Linked DNA regions of Homo sapiens: region 2 is linked to region 1. Evidence: fine-mapped expression QTL. A gene starts in region 1. The other region holds a variant in brackets. All regions are shown on one strand. Distances are from middle to middle.

Region 1 (4,248 bases):
ACATTTAAAAATAAATGAAGCTTTAAGTTTGGGGGTTTTCTGTTTTTTGTGGTTTTTGTTTTAGCATAAACTTTTGATACAAGAAATCTTCAAATACAAGGCTTTTTTAACTTCAGACACTGCTTCCCTGAATTTCCTTACATGGACAGGGAGAAGACAGCCCCCACAGGCACTGTACCTTAATAATGAGAATCCCATGTGGAAACCCTTAATATTTACAAAGTTCTTTTAGACATTGGCCAGTGGAAGCCCCTCAAACAATTCCATTGGGCAGAGGGTGCTATACTCATTCTACAGATGCGGTTAACTGAGGGTAGAGAAGCCTGAAGAGCAAGTCCAGCCCTGTGGCCCGGCCCTGGAGCCAGTCTCCTGACATCTACTCCCAGGTTCTCTGCAGGAGGTCACATTGCCTTCTGGCCCCCAGGAGAGCCTGTGCAGAACCTGCTGGGGAAACTGCGAGGAGAGACCCTTGGGTGCCGAGGGTCACGCAGCCCCCAGGCCCCAGCCCCCTTCTCCTACAGCCTGCTAGGCGGCATTGCTGCCCCAGGGTGATGCTTCTGCTCTCTCCTGTATTCGCGCTGGAGAAGTTTTCCCTGAAACCAGGTTCCATCCCCAGCCAATAACTCATTTCCTCAGAGATGGTGTCTGTATAAAACAAGCAAGATGGTCATTTGCAGAAACGCACAGCAAGGCAGCCCTAGACCGCTTCCCCTGCGGGTTCAAACCCCAACAGGCTCCAGAGGCTAAGAGGACGTGCCCGCTGGCTCAGCTCCCATGGCACGGGCTGGGTGCTCCGCTATTTCACTTCTCTCCCTCAGTTCCCCATCTGTGAAATGGGAATGCCCCTTCAGCTGCTCTGCCTCAGCCCCTATGGAAATGCCAGGAAGGGGAAAGGTCGGTCACCAAAACGCCAGGGACAGCATTATCTGAAAAGTGAAGCCAGAAAAGAGGGTGAGGGTGGGGTGGGGAGGGGGAGCCAGCGCCCACAAAGCACGAATTAAACACCCATGAAATCAAGCACGACGCCAAGAGGGCCGGCTGCCTTGAGAAAAGCCAGCGTGCGGCCACCTTTTCCCCGGCCTGGGAACTTTCCCCAGGAACAGGGCCCTCGGCCCGGAGTCCCGCGCCTCGCCCAGGGCCCCACTGCCCAGCGCCTGGCCCTGCCCTGTCGCCCCCGCCGCCCCTCGGGCCCCTGCAGGCCGGGTCGGAGGTCTGTCGGCAAAGGCTCAGCCAGGCCGCCCGGCTCTGCGTCCCCAGACCTCCGCAAACACGCCCCCTCCGGCCGCCTCCGGCTAGGAAGCCGGGCCCGTGCCCGCCAGATGTGCCCAGCGCCGGGAAGAGCCGGGCCAGGGACGGCCTGGAGCCCGCGCGGAGGCTTTCCCCGGGAGGCTCGGGCACCGCGGCACCCGGATCCCGCCTCTCTCCCCCGATCCTGGGCAGCCGGAAAAGGGATCGATCGCCGGCGTGCGAGGCCGGCCGGGGTCCCCGCAAGTCGCCTTCCGGGGATCCGGGGATCCGGACCCCCGCCCCCTTCCCCGGAACCCCCCGGGGGGGTACGCTCGGGCAGGTGCAGTCAATGCCAGTCCCGCCCCAGCCTCCTGCCCCCCGCCCGAGCCCACCCGGCGCTTACCTGGCCCAGGCGCAGCAGCAGCAGCAGCAGCGGCAGCGCCCAGCGCAGCCCGGGCGAGCGCGGAGGCAGCCGCGCCTCCCGCGCCGCCGGCTTCATGCCCCGCGCGCCCTGGAACGTGCCCCGGACGCGCGAATCGGGCCCCGCCGTGCGCCCGAGCCCGGGCACCGTCGTCGCCGCCTCCTGCCGTCTCCTTCGCCTCCTCCTCCGCCAGCCGGTCCGCCTCGTCCCCGCTCCGCCCGCCCCGGGCTTCCCCGGAGACATGGCAGCGGCGGCGGCGGCCGCGGCCACACGCCGGAGCCTAGCGCGGCTGCCGCGGGGGGGCCGCGTCCCTGAGCGCGCAGGGGCTTCGCGGGGCGGAGCGAGCGGCGCCCACCCCCAGCGCGCGGCTACCCGGTCCCGGCTCCCGCGGCTGCTCCCGCTGCCTCCTCCGCGCGTCATGCGGCTGGGGCTGCTGCAGGGAGCCGCGGCGAGCGCTCGGCCCCCTCCCTTCCCCTCCCCCTCTGAATATTCATCGCTTCCTCCCGCCCCGGCCGGCCCGGCGGCTGCGGAGCTCCGCAGCCCCTCGCCGCCGCCCGCCGCTGCCCCCGCCCCCTCCGAGCCGGCCGCGGATCCCCTCCCGCGGGCAGAGGAAGCGCTCCCGCCTCGCCCGCCCCTCCGCCCAGCCCTCCCACATTCCTGGGACTTGGAGCCCGGGACCAGGCTCCGTGGCTCTAGCGCCTCGAGCCGGCACCCCTCAGGACGGGCTCCCCAGCCTCACACCAGGTCCACGGCGCCGGGTTCGGGTGGGCAGAGGTTGACCGAGACCCCTACTGAGAGCGCAGCCAAGCCTGATTGTAGACAGCAACCCGGCGAAGGCGCGTTTGACCTGGCCCTGGGTGGGCTTGGGGGTGCGTGAACCCCGAAATTGTAGAAGGCACGCTGTACATTGTGTTCTGTCCCCCAGCCCCCGAGCGCCGGCCAGGGAGGCAGAGAGCCCAGTACAAGCCAGTCCAGGGATTAGAACCCCAGCTGTGGCATATGGTGGACGGGGCTCTGCTGGTAGTACCAGCCCTGTGAACTCTGGAGACGCATTTCTCCTCTCTGGCCGACCCCACCCACCCTCCTCTCCTCCCGTGTGAAATAAAGATCGTACTAGGACGTGTGGAGAGAGAGGTCCACTGCATTCGCGATTAAACGAGACAGTAGTTAGTAAAGTCCTAAACACCTAGCCTGACACATCGTGGGACTCCACATACATTAGCTCTTCTGGAAGCTTTCATCACGTTGTTAAAGAGGTCAATGAACTGACAGGAGTTAAAGATCACAGCAGATATTACTCCTGTGCCCATGCACAGAGGAAGACACTAGGATCAGGGAGGCTATGCCACTTGCCCAGGAGAAGCCGCAAGAGAAAGGGCCAAACCAGAGAGTGCTAAGGAGGAAGAGGTTAATTCCAACCAGGAGAGAGGTGACACCTGAGCTGGGCTTTGAAGGATGTGTTGAGTTTCACCAGGCCAGTAGAGGGGAGAAGTGTCTCAGGAGGTGGGGCCAACTTGGCAGAAACGAGGCAGCAGATGCTTCGAGCTTGGCCTTCGGAGAAACAGGAATGGGAGGCTGGGGGATTCATACTGGGGGAGACTTCAAAGGCCAGGATAATGAGTCTAGGCTGGATTCTGTGTGCAGCAAGATGCAGACCACGAGGTGTCCAACACTACCTCCAGACACCCGTTGGGCCTCAGGTTACCATCTACAAGATGGGAATACACATTCACTTACAGGGTCTAAGTGGTTCCCACCAGACAACACACCCAGACAAGCACTGAGGATAAAGAAACTTTGCCAGGCCGCACGATGGCTCACGCCTGTAATCCCAGCACTTCCGGAGGCCAAGGTGACTAGATCACTTAAGCTCAAGAGTTCGAAACCAGCCTGGGCAACGGGGTGAAACCCAGTTTCTACAAAAATTAGCCGGGTGTGGTGGCACACAGCTGTAGACTAAGCTACCTGGGAGGCCGATACAAGGATGGCTTGAACCTAGGCTGCAGTAAACCAAGATGGCAACACTGCACTCCAACCTGGGGAATAACGTGAAAACCTGTCTCAAAAAAAAAAAAAAAAAAAAGAAGAGGCTGGGCGTGGTGGCTCACACCACACCTGTAACCCCAGCACTTCAGGAGGCCGGGGCAGGCAGATCACTTGAGGTCAGGAGTGCGAGACCAGCTTGGCCAACATGGTGAAAACCCATCTCTACTAAAAATACAAAAGTTAGCTGGGCGTGATGGCGTGCCTGTAATCTCAGCTACTCCAGAGGCTGAGGGCAGGAGAATCGCTTGAACCCGGGAGACGGAGGTTGCAGTGAGCCAAGATTGCACCACTGCACTCCAGCCTGGGTGACAGAGTGAGACTCCATCTCAAAAAAAAGAAAAGAAAAAGAAAAAAGAAACCTTACCTATGGACTTACACACCTTGCCACCCTTCATTTAAACACTATGTAATTATCATAATTCACAAGGATTTTTGTTCCTCTGTGCCTCCTCCCCTCTTGAGGCAGAGACATAAAAGGTGTTCATGTCCATGATACCCAGAGGGAAGGAAAGCTTGATTTAAGATGCTACCAGGGGGCTGGGCACAGTGGCTCA
Region 2 (4,248 bases), 29 kb before region 1:
CGTCTAGTAAGTGGTAAGTCCAGAAACAGAACCCAGGCCACCTCCTGCCTCCAAGTCCAGCTCCTATCTTACCATCAGCACAACACAAGAGGCCTTGTGCACATACATTATTGCTGCACAGGCTTGATCTGGATGGATCTCTCTTACAAACAGGCATACACAGCCCCAAGCTATGAAAGGTAGCAAAACTAATCAAGTCTTATAGATTAAATGTCTTACAAAGCATGGTGACTCCCGCATGACAATGAAAGCTGAAAGGCAGATTGTGCCAATGTTATCTCTGCCTTTGCCCAGGGGCCCTGGTCCCTGAATAGGCAGTAGGGACCACCACTGACCTCTGTCCTGCCCACCTCCTAGAACAGTGCACCCACCCTGCTCACCAAACCCCACTCTTTATTTAAAGACCCAACTTGCTGGGAGGGACAGTGCACCTGTAATCCCAGCTACTCAATTGGCTGAAGCGGAAGGATGACTTGGGCTCAGGAATTCAAGTCCAGCCTGAGCCACACAGAAAAACCCTATCTCCAAAATAATAATAATAATAATAATAATAGGCCAGGCATGGTGGCTCACACCTATATTTCCAGCACTTTAGGAGGCCAAGGCAGGTGGATCACCTGAGGTCAGGAGTTCGAGACCAGCCTGGCCAACATGATGAAACCTCATCTCTACTAAAAATACAAAAATTACCTGGGCGTGGTGGCATGCCTGTAATCCCAGCTACTCAAGAAGCTAAGACAGGAGAATCACTTGAACCCAGGAGGCGGAGGTTGCAGTGCGCCAAGATCACGCCACTGCACTCCCAGACTGGGTGACAGAGTGAGACTCCGTCTCAAAAAATAATAATAATAATAAAAGCCTAACTCAAGTCCCATGTCTTCAATTCATTCAACAAATTACTGAGCACCTAATGGGCCGCGCAGTGGTTCACCCTGTAATCCCAGCACTTTGGGAGGCTGAGACGGGCGGATCACTTGAGGTCAGGAGTTTGAGACCAGCCTGGCCAACATGGCGAAACCCTATCTCTACTAAAAATATAAAAAATAAGCCGGGCGTGGTGGCACCCGCCTGTAATCCCAGCTACTCAGGAGGCTGAGGCAGGAGGACTGCTTGAAGCTGGGAGTGGGAGGTTGCAGTGAGCCGTGATAACGCCACTCTACTCCAGCCTGGGCGACAGAGCTAGACTCTGTCTCAAAAAAAATAAATAAATAAATAAATTACTGAGCACCTACTGGGTTACCAGGCCCTGTGGCACGATGTCCTTGGAGAACCCCGTCTATTTAGGGAGACAGAGGTACAAGAGTTACTCCATCACATGCAAGGACCTAGTGGCAAGAAAGCGTGTGGCACACTGGAGAGACTGTAAGAAATTTGGGATGGGGAGTCCCCAGAGTATGTATGTCCAGAAACGCTGCACTACATGCCAACCCAAATAACTCAACAGTATCCAACAGGCATGGGGGGCCTTGATGGCTTAGAGCAGTAGATAACTTGTTTGGTCTGATCAGAGCCACGGCACATGAAGCCCTTTCTCTGAAAGCCCAGATAGCTCATTTAATTCTCACAACAACCCAAAGAGATAAGGTACTAGTCCCACTTAACAGCTGAGAAGCCTGAACTGGGAAAGATCCAGTGACTTGCCCAGGGGCACATAGCAGTTACGTGGCAGAGCCCAGACTTGGCCCAGGTCTGCCTAAGTTGCTTTTTAAGCACCACATTATAGTGCACCACATATCCATATAAAGCACGGCTTCAAGTCTAACGTTTGTTTCTTTAACCAATATTTTTTTTTTGAGACAGAGTCTCGCTCTATTGCCCAGGCTGGAGTGCAGTGGCACAATCTCGGCTCGCTACACCCTCCGCCTCCCAGGTTCAAGTGATCCTTCTGCCTCAGACCCCTGAGTAGCTGGGATTACAGGCATGAGCCACCATACCCAGCTAGTTTTTGTATTTTTAGTAGAGATGGGGTCTCGCCATACTGGCCAGGATGGTCTCGAACTCCTGACCTCCAACGACCCACCTGCCTCGGCCTCCCAAAGTGCTAGGATTACAGTCGTGAGCCACTGCGCCCAGCCTGTTTGACCAAATTAGGTTTATACTTTACTTTGAAGCTCGCGTCTTTAAATTTCTTATAGCATAAACATCCTGCCATATCATGGAACATTTTTTCAGTGCGTTGGTAATGACTGCATAGTAGTCCACAATTTCAGCAATCCTCCACCGCTCAATACTTAGGTTGTTTCCAACACATGGCTTCTTGTTTTTCTTTAACAGACCATCCCACACACGGTTCATCCCAT[T/C]GTGTCCTCACAGGGGGAAACCCTGCAACCCTGATACCACTCATTGTGTGACTTATCTTATACAAGGATGAGTAAGACAATGACTTTCAACGAAATATCAGCAAGTTTTATTATAGAAGGAACTACTTTCCTTTCCCAACCCACCCCCCAGTTTTGCTAACAATAATTCATTTGTTTACTGGGTTGATTTCTCTATTAGAAGCAAATGCAATAAACCGGGGTGTGGCCAGGCATGGTGGCTCACGACTGTAATCCTAGCACTTTGGGAAGCTGAGGTGGGTGGATCACCTGAGATCAGGAGTTCTAGATCAGCCTGGCCAACATGGTGAAACCCCACCTCTATGAAAAATACAAAAATTAGCCGGGCGTGGTGGCGCATGCCTGTAATCTCAGCTACTTGGGAGACTGAGGCAGGAGAATCGCTTGAACCTGGGAGGCGGAGGTTGCAGTGAGCCAAGACCACACCATTGCACTCCAGCCTGGGCAACAAGAGCAAAACTTCAACTCAAAAAAATAAAAAATAAATAAATAGGCCAGGCATGGTGGCTCACGCCTGTAATCCCAGCACTTTGGGAGGCCGAGGCAGTTGGATCACGAGGTCAGAAGTTCAAGACCAGCCTGGCCAAGATGGTGAAACCCCGTCTCTACTAAAAATACAAAAATTAGCTGGGCGTGGTGGCACATGCCTGTAATCCCTGCTACTCGGGAGGATGAGGCAGAGAATTGCTTAAACCCAGGAGGCGGAGGTTGCAGTGAGCCAAGATCACGCCACTGCACTCCAGCCTGGGCCACAGAGCGAGACTCCGTCTCAAAAAATAAATAAATAAATAAATTGTGGTGAAAGGTGTGGAACATCTGAAGCAGGCATGGGCTCAGCCTAAGGGTCCACGCATGGGCTCAGCCTCCCCTCAAAACAGATTCCAGAGTTCAGAAGACACCTTCAACTCTTCCCCAGAAGTAACAGATTTCCCTCCAGCAGATCACCTGGCACGTGTCAGAACTCAACCCTAAAAGCCCAATTCAGCCTCCATTAAAAACAGGTCAAAAATAGATACGTTACTGAATACCCTGTGTGCTCACCACTGTATCTTTAGTGTCGGGAAGAAGGGGGCAGAAAGAACCAGGAACTGGAGCCAGGAACCTGGGCTCACAGTGATATTAGCTGTGTGGTCTTGGGCAAGTCACTTCCCCTCTCTGCGCCTTGGTTTCAACATCTCTAAAGTAAACGGTTTGCATTAGATGACCCTCAATGACCCTTCCTGCTCTGGGCCTGCCCAGTTTTATAAGTGACCAGTGACTGTACATCATGATGTCAACTCACAAGTACAGCTCCTACCAGCTTGCTGCTGCCTGGAGGGAAGACAGCAGGAACGCACAGAAGAAAAAGGCCTCAGCCGGGTGCAGTGGCTCACACCTGTAATCCCAGCATTCTGGGAGGCGGGCAGATCACTTGAGGTCTGGAGTTCAAGATCACCCTGGCCAGCATGGCAAAACCCCATCTCTGCTAAAAATAGAAAAATTAGCCAGGTGTGGTGGCACATGCTTGTAATCCCAGCTACTCAGGAGGCTGAGGCACAAGAATCGCTTGAACCTGGGAGACGGAGGTTGCACCAAGATTGTGCCACTGCACTACAGTCTGGGTGACACAGTGAGGAAAAAAAAAAGAAAAGAAAAAGGCCTGGCCCCGTGTGGTGGCTCATGCCTGTAATCCCAGCACTTTGGGAGGCCGAGGTGGGCGGATCACGACGTCAGGAGATCGAGACCAACCTGGCTAACATGGTGAAAACCCATCTCTACTAAAAAAAAAAAAAATACAAAAAATTAGCCGGGCGTGGTGGCAGGCACCTGTAGTCCCAGCTACTCGGGAGGCTGAGGCAGGAGAATGGCGTGAACCCGGGAGGCGGAGCTTGCAGTGAGCAGAGATTGCGCCACTGCACTCCAGCCTGGG

Alleles and levels. Positions count from the first base shown, and alleles are read on the strand shown. Sizes are in standard deviations (SD) of each study's normalised expression.
As copies of T replace C in region 2, the expression in monocytes after LPS of the gene that starts at base 2,080 in region 1 goes up (large effect, 0.81 SD a copy in Quach 2016).

What was found. PIP is the estimated chance that this variant, and not a neighbour inherited with it, causes the effect.
Region 2: its variant is fine-mapped to the expression of PTPRJ in monocytes after LPS (Quach 2016, PIP 0.95).

Annotation. Positions count from the first base shown.
Region 1 is chr11:47,978,391-47,982,638 of GRCh38, reverse strand. PTPRJ (protein tyrosine phosphatase receptor type J) reads right to left here and starts at 2,080. Exons shown (of 25, transcript NM_002843.4): 1 at 1,631-2,080. The coding sequence starts at 1,726. RefSeq lists silencers at 1,050-1,479, 1,580-2,169.
Region 2 is chr11:48,007,141-48,011,388 of GRCh38, reverse strand. All of the region lies in intron 1 of PTPRJ (protein tyrosine phosphatase receptor type J), which reads right to left. Among named protein-coding and RNA genes, the nearest start is that of PTPRJ, 29 kb to the right of the region's middle. The variant T/C (reference allele first, on the strand shown) is at 2,301.